Linked DNA regions of Homo sapiens: region 1 is linked to region 2. Evidence: fine-mapped expression QTL. A gene starts in region 2. The other region holds a variant in brackets. All regions are shown on one strand. Distances are from middle to middle. Region 1 has its middle 43 kb from the start of WDR36. Region 2 holds the start of WDR36 (WD repeat domain 36).

Region 1 (5,381 bases), 43 kb after region 2:
AGCCAAAATTGTTTCCAAGAGTAATCTCACTGATTCAGATATAAATTTAATACAATATAAGGCATATACCTTGCAGTCCTTCCCCCATTAAGGCTAAGCCATGGGACTTATTGCAAGGGAAAGGGAGCAGTGATATTAGAGAAGGTCACAGTATAGGTCAGTAGTTCTCAAAGTGTGTTTCCCCAATTAGCAATATCAACATCACCTGGGAACTTAGAACTGCAGGCCCCACTGCATAACTACTGAAATAAAAACTCTGTGGGTAGGGGCCAGCAATATGTATTTTAACAAATCTCCGTTTTGGTGACTTAATATAACTGAACTTAGAACTGGAGAAGGGAAAAAAGAAGGCTATGAGGCATAAGGTTCTCACCTATGTTCCCACTTGGTTCTAGGAAGAAACCTGAAGGAAGGAAAGTGAGCAAAAGGGTTAAAGATTTTGTAGGCCCTGGCCCCAGATCTAGAAGTAAAAGGGGAAGTGGGGATGGAGGGTTAGTTGGAGAAATCACTGGGTACATTAAGTGGAACTCCAGAGTTGTGGGGCTAGGTCCTGACTCCCCTGGAGGAGACTGGCTCACAAGCCCTCTATCCTGACACATGGTGGCCATAGTCAAGGGGTGTGACTTAACTTAGGTGGCAAGAAATGACTGTGACAGCTCACAGAGTTTCCATGACTGTGGGTGACACTGGGAGGGATCTGGAGGTTTCCACCTGCTCCCTGAGGGGAATGAGGGAGGCAGCTGGGAGTAGAATGCCAACAGGCCTGCCATAGAGCCCCAGTGGCAGAGTGTGGACACACCATCCTGGCCCAGGGCCCAGCTGGAAGATAGGCAGAGACTCAGGGCACAGGCTAAGTGGGACTGTGGTCCTGGTCGGGGGAGGTGAGAAGAGGGTCTGGCAACACAGAAGGCACTCACACATAGTGAACCTTCCTTTGTGAGGAAAGAAACAGACATGGTAGGGAATTTGAACATAAAATCTCACAAAATATTTATCCAAAAGAGACTAGGCTAATGTGAAAGAGACTGAGATACTTTTTAATTGGTAATTTTGTTCCCTACCCTAAATCTAGTAATATGAGGGCTCAAGATGAAATTTAATCATTTTGATATATAAAATATTCTTTAGGGATCTTTCTTTCAGTATCTGTGTACTATATGCTGAATTTCCCAATTCCAACCATGCTAATTTCCATTTCCAGCTGAATCTACTAAATGTCTCTGAAAAGGTACGTAAAATATTCAATACTTAGTTTTATCTCTGTGTTGTTAGTGATTTATTGACACTGCAGACATGTAGATAACAATAGTTTAATGTCCTCTGAAAACACAAAAATTCCATAAATCCTTGCAAACAATTTTTAGCAATATTGTTTATTGCTACCACAGCCAAGAATGGATATTTCAAAGCCGGGGGTTTTGTTCTGTTTTGTTTTGTTTTGTTTGGCTGCCCTTTTTTTCCCCCACTATCTCTGGCTAAATTCCAGTCTTTACTATTAATTTATTTTTTCTCATTTGAACTTTCCAAGTATGATGTCTGCCTCATAACTCTGGCCCTGTTTCCTCACTCCTGGCCACACTCTATTCTCTAGAGTAAATATGATGCAAGCCCATTGGGTGACTGAATGGTGGGTGAGAGTGAGTTATCGAAGCCTGGACTCACTTAACCATGTGGATTTAGTTTACAAGAAGCATCATATACCAAACAAAGGAGTCACATACCCGACAGCCTCCCCACCCAGCTCACAGCGCTGTGATCACTCCTCTTTCCTTCCTTCAATCATTGATTTATTCATTCTATCTTCAACAAATACTTAGCTCTGACCCTGTCTCAGATGCTGTTCTATGCTCTTGAGATACTTTAGAAAACAAAACATATAAAAATCCCGGTCCTATGAAGCTTGTATTTTAGCTCATTATTCTTTTATATTCTTTTGCTTAGCCTTTTGACTTGCTCTCTTTTAGAATCAAGATAAAGAAGAAGATGTTTCTAGGCCTTCACACTCTGCAAAGAGTGACTGCCAGGAGTTTCTCCCTTTATTTCAAAATGTGGCATACGTGGGTGTGTGTGTGTGTGTGCACGCACACGTGTGTGCACGTGTTTGTGTGTGTGTACAGGAATTCCCAAATAGCCTCCATATGAAAAAAAAAATGCCTGCATGCTGCTTCACTACCATTCTTGTTTTAACAAAGGGCTTGGTAACTTAGAAAAGCAGTGCATATGAAGAAGTAAAACAATTAAGGAGGAAAAAAAACTGGTTTTTTTTTTCCCTTGGAAGACTCCACCTCTCCATTCTCTGGCTGATAATAGATGGCCAGGCATAGGGAAGCAGAGACTAGGAATTAGCCTTGTAGTTTGTCAGACGTGGCTCCTGGAGCTGAGGGCCACCCCCCAGGGGCCTGGGTGCAGTTTTAGCTCTTGGCACACTGCGTGGAAAGGTGGAGGCAGGGGGCAGAGATGAGATGTTCATCTCTGTTGCTGTGGTGACAAGGAGGTGAAGTGAAGGTACTTCAAAAATGTAAGCTACAACACGTGAGGAAAAAGGTGCCTGTGGAACTGTGT[G/A]CTTCTCTCAACCTGTCCCATTCCCTCCTAAATAATCGTGTATGGGGTATGGCAAGATGGAGATCCCAACACACATGAGACAGGGTGCCTGACCCCCAGTCCAGGAGATGAGCCTTGCAGGAGGAAAGGCAGCACACATCTGCCTTCTCGGAGCCAGGGCAGGCTGCACAAAGAGGACAACTGCCATTGATCTTGAACAAAGGGGGTGGGAGGGGCATGGTATTACAGAGAGAGACAGGACAGCATTCAGAGATGAGGCCATGAGAAAGGCAATAGAAAGTCAGGGATGGCCAAAGTCATGCCAGCTGCTACCTCTGGGAATGTGTAGAGGTCAGTGGCCCTGGAACTGGGTACAAAGGAGACTTTATCTGCAATGTTTTGTGTAATTTTAAATTAAACAAAATAAGATAAAACATCAACTACTATTGATTCTAGGTGTTGATGTCTATATATTTTCATACTCTATATTTAGTTTAGTTTTTTTTAATTGTATTTCAATCTTTTTTTTTGTCTAGCTTTTCAAATAGAATGTATTTACACATCTCTAACCATTCATCCATCCATCCATTCATGCTACTTCGTAGATATATCTTGTGTGGCTGACCAGATCTTATTTCCTCTGGAAGGTGGCCTTTGGAAGCTGCAATTGTGTTTGCCACCCAAGTCACTGGACCTTTCCCAAAATTCCAGGCCACCACTTGACCTAACCACATTCATTTCGATGCAAGTCCCTGGCATTGGGTCTTTATGAGGCGCAGATGGTCTCCAGGTCAGCACTGAGCCCTGTCTCTTTCTCTCTGTGCCCAGCTGGCATGAATTGGAAGGCAGAGGAACCGAGGGAGTTCTGAGTCACCTAGCTTGACTGAGTCAGAGATTTCTCCAGGGAGTGGTGGAAAGGGTGGCTCTTGGCAGAAGAGATCCTCATCTCAATGGTGTGGTACTTGCCTGAGATTTCCCAGAAAGCACGAAGAACATCAGGGTGGAGAGTTTCACTCTCAGCGACAAATAGAAATAATCCACTTGATTCCACATGAACTAAGTGTTGAAGAAAAACATAATCTCACATTAGCTTATCTCTTTACCCTTTACCAGAACTCAAAGATGGAAATTACCATTCTCATCCTGCTGGGAAATGACAATCATGCAGCAAATACACCATACTTTGTGTCACTTGAAACCAGTTTTATCTATTAAAAAAATACTAATCCTTAAAATATTATTCCTTTATGAAACACAAGGCCTTTTTTTTTCATAGCCTTTGTTGCAGCAAAACTCCTCAATAAATAGCACTGCCCAGAGACAGTTAGGGTAAACTTAGATCATGCAGGAAAGTGTCTGTCACTGTTTGCCTGCATCTCTAATGCCCTTGATGGGTTGGTTTCCTCCTTTTGTGCCAGTGTGGAAGTCTCATTCCCATTGTCTGCCATCAGCTAAATGTCCAAATTTGCTATAGAGCCCATCTCAATTTTGTGCACACAAGTGTTCCATAAATACCTAATTTAGTGGTTTTCTAAGAGTTGTCTGTCCAGTGTTCCCTAGGGGTCCTTCAAATATTTCCAGATGGTCAGCAAAATATGATTAAAAACTATTTTCATAAAACTGTGTTTACTCACAGTATTTCAAGTACAGGAAATATCAACAGATATAATTAATGTCACACTGAGATCCTCAATAATTTTTTAGAAAGTGAAGGGCTCCTTAGACAAAAAATGTTGAGAATCATTGCACCAATTGATTGGTTAGAGAAATACATAGCCTTACCAAGAGGTGCTAGCATATACTAATACCCAATGCTTATCTCTGAAAATGCCTTAAATCTGATGTTCCAAGACATGGAATATGAATCAGTACTGCTCTTCATCCTCTGAGAGAGCCAGTGAGGTCAGGGCTGGTCTCAGGTTTTAAAACTCCATTCAACCTCAGATTTAGTTGGATCAGTCACCTATTGAGTTCAATTAGGACTAGATGGCAAAGTTTAGAATAAAACAATTAGGTCATAAACAAAAATTTTTTAATTAACATAATGAAATGTATTACTCAGAACCAGTTTTAGTTATTTTCAGCAGAAACTACTATTTAAGTACATTAAGGGTTTTTCCAAGTCCCTTGAAGACTTCGTGGCTGAGAACTACGTCTAGAACATCCCAAGGTTCACATGGCTGATACTGGCCCTAGATACTGGAACCTCTGTCCCTGATGCCTCACTGAACAGAGTCCACACAGCATCTGCTTCTCCATGGCACTTACAACTCCTATTGTAATGTTAGTGCATCCATATTGTAATGCATATGTAGTGCATAACATATTGTAATGTTAGTGCATTAGAACAGTCTAGGGCTCAGGCCTATACCCAATGCTGAGAGACGAAGGTTTTGGGTTCTGAGTTCAGGAAGCAGAGACTGTAAATGGGGAATTCCCCAAGCATAGAATAGTGTTCACAAAGTGTTGGGAGTCAAAAGTAGGACAATCCTCCCCTTGGCTGCCCAGCTTCGCAACACACTGGGAAGTTTTCACACTTAAACTTCTAGTAGCAAAAACAGCAGCAGCTATAATAAAATACTGTCCTTCACAGAGGGAAAAACATCTTGCTCTGTGTTTTCCTAAAAGGAGAAACAATTCTCTATTAGTTAAGAATATTTTCTCAGCCAGTGCAATGTGGTGAAACCCCATCTCTACTAAAAATACAAAAAATTAGCTGGGCGTGGTGACGTGCACCCATAGTCCCAGTTACTAGGGAGGCTAAAGCAGAAGAATCGGGAGGCGGAGGTTGCAGTGAACTGAGGTAGAGCCACTGCACTCCAGCCTGGGCAAAAGAGTGA
Region 2 (5,381 bases):
ACCCGACCTTTCTCTCTGGCTGCCCTTAACATTTCTTCCTTCATTTCAACTTTGGTGAATCTGACAATTATGTGTCTTGGAGTTTCTCTTCTCGAGGAGTATCTTTGTGGCATTCTCTGTATTTCCTGAATCTGAACGTTGGCCTGCCTTGCTAGATTGGGGAAGTTCTCCTGGATAATATCCTGCACAGTGTTTTCCAACTTGGTTCCATTCTCCCCATCACTTTCAGGTACACCAATCAGACGTAGATTTGGTCTTTTCAGATAGTCCCATATTTCTTGGAGGCTTTGCTCGTTTCTTTTTATTCTTTTTTCTCTAAACTTCCCTTCTCACTTCATTTCATTCATTTCATCTTCCATTGCTGATACCCTTTCTTCCTGTTGATGGCATCGGCTCCTGAGGCTTCTGCATTCTTCACGTAGTTCTCAAGCCTTGGTTTTCAGCTCCATCAGCTCCTTTAAGCACTTCTCTGTATTGGTTATTCTAGTTATACATTCTTCTAAATTTTTTTCAAAGTTTTCAACTTCTTTGCCTTTGGTTTGAATGTCCTCCCGTAGCTCATAGTAATTTGATCGTCTGAAGCCTTCTTCTCTCAGCTCATCAAAGTCATTCTCCGTCCAGCTTTGTTCAGTTGCTGGTGAGAAGCTGCGTTCCTTTGGAGGAAGAGAGGCACTCTGCTTTTTAGAGTTTCCAGTTTTTCTGTTCTGTTTTTTCCCCATCTTTGTGGTTTTATCTACTTTTGGTCTTTGATGATGGTGATGTACAGATGGGTTTTTGGTGTGGATGTCCTTTCTGTTTGTTAGTTTTCCTTCTAACAGACAGGACCCTCAGCTGCAGGTCTGTTGGAGTACCCTGCAGTGTGAGGTGTCAGTGTGCCCTGCTGGGGGTGCCTCCCAGTTAGGCTGCTCAGGGGTCAGGGGTCAGGGACCCACTTGAGGAGGCAGTCTGCCCGTTCTCAGATCTCCAGCTGCGTACTAGGAGAACCACTGCTCTCTTCAAAACTGTCAGACAGGGACATTTAAGTCTGCAGAGGTTACTGCTGTCTTTTTGTTTGTCTGTGCCCTGCTGCCATAGGTGGAGCCTACAGAGGCAGGCAGGCCTCCTTGAGCTGTGGTGGACTCCACCCAGTTCCAGCTTCCAGCTGCTTTGTTTACCTAAGCAAGCCTGGGCAATGGTGGGCGCCCCTCCCCCAGCCTTGCTGCCGCCTTGCAGTTTGATCTCAGACTGCTGTGCTAGCAATCAGCAAGACTCCGTGGGCGTAGGACCCTCCGAGCCAGGTGCGGGATATAATCTCGTGGTGTGCCGTTTTTTAAGCCCGTCGGAAAAGCGCAGTATTGGGGTGGGAGTGACCCAATTTTCCAGATGCCGTCCATCACCCCTTTCTTTGATTAGGAAAGGGAACTCCCTGACCCCTTGTGCTTCCCAAGTGAGGCAATGCCTCGCCCTGCTTCGGCTCGCGCACGGTGCGCGCACCCACTAACCTGCGCCTACTGTCTGGCACTCCCTACTGAGATGAACCCGGTACCTCAGATGGAAATGCAGAAATCACCCGTCTTCTGCGTCGCTCACGCTGGGAGCTGTAGACCGGAGCTGTTCCTATTCGGCCATCTTGGCTCCTCCCCTCTCCCCTCTTTTTTAATTTAAAGAACATTTACAAATAATTAGCAACTTGTTCACTTTTAAGTCATACCAAAAACATGGCTGAAAATGTGCACTGCTATTGAGAAATCCGGGGTACAAATGAAAATACAAGTAAGTACAACATGTCAAGGACTAAATAACAAGCTCTCATTCTGTTAGCATCTGCCCCTTAATGATCTTAACATCCAAAGTGTTTGAGGCTTTGTGCCAAGAACTATAAAATAAATCAAGATTTTTTTTGTTCAAGAATGTATGAGTCAGGTATTCAAATTAGCTAACAAGTGACTTTTGTTTCATAATAATTACATTTTAGAACTGGAAGGAACCCGAGAGAGTACACTGATCTGTGTAGAGACAGACCCTCTTTATCTCTTTCAAGTACATTTACATTAGTAAATATACCCTTTTTATCCCTCTCAAGTACTAGTATAGTTACGTTAGTCACTCGACCCAAACCTTAATAGGCTGCCAAAACGTTTTCATAAACGAAATGAAATGGAAATAAAACAGTAAGAGAAGAGGTTATTCCATATGTTGAACTTTGGTCCTGGGCTCTAAGCTCACCACTGTTTTAGTTAATGTTCACATGCTCAGAGATTGTTCCCCAAACCTACATCTTGGTAAGGCAGCTGGCTCCTGAGGAGTGAGGCGTCTTGACACCCACTTCACTGGAATCAGTCTCCTTCAGCATCCTAAGGCACTCAGCTCTAATGAACTGCCCGGACTCCCGTTTGCATTATGATAAGCTCCTCTTTAGAACCTCTACTGTCTGCTTTTGACAGCCGACCTCAAGGAATACTGACTTAATCCAGGAATCCCAATAACATTTAATATTTATCTTCCTTTTCTGGGAGGAATCTACACTTATCCAAGTTGCCCAAGTGAGCAGTTCCCTCCCCACAAGTAATTAGTTCTACTCCCCAGAGGGTCTGTGAGTGAATCCCTCTGTCAGTTTTGAAATGTCCCATTATAGTTTTCATCTGTAAATATGTCAATATGTATCCAAAAGATGAGGATCTTTAAAAACGTAATCATAATGCTACTATCATATGTAAAAATGAAACATAATTCCTTAATATCATCAGATATCCAGTGTTTAAATTTTTCCAGTCTCATGTTTTTGTACATTTTTAAATAATCACATGTTTAAATCGTTTCCATCTCCAAGGCGTCGACCTCCCCTCCATTCTCCTGGGCGTCGCGCTTCCCTCTTTGTTTCCCGCCCTTGCGGTTCTGTCGGAACCTAACGAGCTTCCTTCCACCGCAAAAGAGCTGGAGAACAATGCTAGGCAACGTGCTGGAGACCTTGGCCCTCGGAACCCAAGTCACGCCTCCCATGTGAGCTCTGGAGGGAGAACTTTATGTGTTGCACTGAGGGCAGTCTCCGGAAACGCGATTCGCAGCGGGCGCCGGAAGCGGTGTTGTGTCTGCAGCTCTGGCAGAGGACTGTTCCACTAGACACGCTGAAGGGACTGGGTACGTGTTTTCCTTCAGGACCAGAGCTGAGAGGAGCTGGGATCGCGGCGGCAATGGAACGGGCCTCAGAAAGGCGCACGGCCAGCGCGCTTTTTGCGGGGTTCCGGGCCTTGGGACTTTTCAGCAACGACATTCCACACGTGGTGCGGTTCAGCGCGCTCAAGCGCCGGTTCTATGTAACAACCTGCGTGGGCAAGAGTTTCCACACCTATGACGTGAGTGACTTCTTTTGTTAGCTTCCCAGGAAAACCACCCTCCTTGGCCTCTAACTCTGTCCTGGAGCAGTCCGGTTCTCCCTTCCCATTTACCACGGGCTTCCCTTCTTTAACCCCTCCCTGTCCTATTAATATTTCGCCATCCGGTCACGTCCACGTGCTGATTTGGCACTTGCAGTCCTCCTGGGGCGTGTTTCAGAGGCAGCCTGGCCAAGGGGAAACTGCTAGAGAACATCTCAGTTGTATGGCAGTAATATTTGTTCAGTGAATATTTATTGACCTTCCCTTGAAGGTGGAAACATAATTAAGACAAACCTCTACCTCTTGCATTCTTAATGAGAGAGAAAAACATGCACGCTATTACGTTATTGGTGACACGAGCTGAGTTAGAAATTCACTCTAGGTAGAATACATTGGGAGAACCGGAGATGGTGAGATTAATTACCGTTAGGGAAAATATCTAATAGCAATCAGTTATTTTCAACTAACGCAAAGTGTCTGGCACTGTCACTCTAAGCCTTGCAGCCGTTTCTTTGCAACATAGGTGTCATTATACCGTAGCACCTTTATATAATCTATTAAAGTAAATTTCAGATAAATCACTTGTTAGTGATGATTTTTTCTCCTATAACAGTTCATCGATCATTGTAATAGTGTCTCTTGTTTACTTGTTTCTTTTGTCTTCTCCGAAAGAATGTAACCTCTGTGAGAACAGAAACCTTGATGAGGAGGATGATAATAGTCAGTGTTAATTAAGTACTTTCTTTTCTGGAAAACAGGTAGAGTTGTCTCTCTTGGAGGATTGTGAATATCAAATGGCTTATTAGCAAAAAGAGCTGGGAGGTAGGAACTAGTTGAGTTAGTGGAAAAGGAAAGTGAGGGCAGAGCTGAGGTGAAGAGCAATTGGGTTTCTCAGAGTCTGAGCTGGTAATGGAGACAGGGTGGGTTAGAACCATATTAATCATGTGAAAGTATTTAGTGTTACCATTCTCTGCACTTGTTCCTTGCTTGCTAACTTTTGCTTTTGCTGGTTAATGTTTTCTTCCTTGAAATGTAATTTTTCTGAGTTTATTACTGAAATAACTCTTGAAATCTTGTCTTTGGTACAGTGTCTTTCCTGACACTGCATTACACACAGACACAGGTGTTTTTCCCTATATTCTACTTCCAAAGAAACCCTGTGGTGAGGAGAGTAACATATTTGTACATTTTATAAAGTTAACAATTTACTTACTGTGTGTTGACATTTAGTCATAATAAAGATGGCTTTTAAGTTCTCCTCTAGTTCTAACACTGATGATACATTCGTAACATCATGGCATGTAAATGTTCTTTACCCAGACTGTACACTGCTCAGATTAACCAATGCATTGGGCTGTGACCTCTAAAACTGAAAATACTTGGGAGTAAAAAGAAAAAAAAAAGGAGCTAATGAACCTAAGTCACTAATTGGGTCTACAAGTGCTCTATCCCATGACTATGGCTATATATGCTGTCCCCAGTCAGACTTCCTACAGTCCTACAGATTAGTTTCTTCTACAGGGGAAACTAGACAAGTTGTGAATAGGTGGTGGTAGTGATGGTAGTAGCTATCATGTATTGAGCAGTTACTATATGACTGGCCCCATTCTGTTTTACACAAATTTACTCATTGAATCCTCATAACAATCCCATAAAGTAAATAAATACCTGTTTTACAGATGAAGAATTTGAGGCACAGGGAGCTTATTTTTCCAGGGTCATACAGCTGGATCAGTAGCCATGATTGGGGTCAGCAAATTACAGTCTGTAAGCCAGTCTAGCCCACTGTTTGTTTTTGTATGACCCAGGAGTTACGAATGATTTTGACATGTTTAAATGTTTGTGGGGGCAGGCTGGGGGTAGGGAGAAGGATATTTCATGACATGAAAACTATGTGAAAATCAAATTTCAGTATCTATAGATAAAAGTTTAATATACCCATGCACATTATTTATCTATTACGTATGGCTGTTTTCATGCTACGGTGGCAGAAGTGAGTAGTTGGCAACAGAGACCACATGCATTGCC

What was found. PIP is the estimated chance that this variant, and not a neighbour inherited with it, causes the effect. A credible set is the group of variants that fine-mapping cannot tell apart.
Region 1: its variant is the best candidate, but not a certain one, in a credible set for the expression of WDR36 in whole blood (INTERVAL, PIP 0.85).

What each region holds. Positions count from the first base shown.
Region 1 is chr5:111,132,734-111,138,114 of GRCh38, forward strand. No RefSeq gene overlaps it. Among named protein-coding and RNA genes, the nearest start is that of WDR36, 43 kb to the left of the region's middle. The variant G/A (reference allele first, on the strand shown) is at 2,563.
Region 2 is chr5:111,089,287-111,094,667 of GRCh38, forward strand. It overlaps WDR36 (WD repeat domain 36), which reads left to right and starts at 3,062. Exons shown (of 23, transcript NM_139281.3): 1 at 3,062-3,332. The coding sequence starts at 3,171. RefSeq lists an enhancer at 2,912-3,351.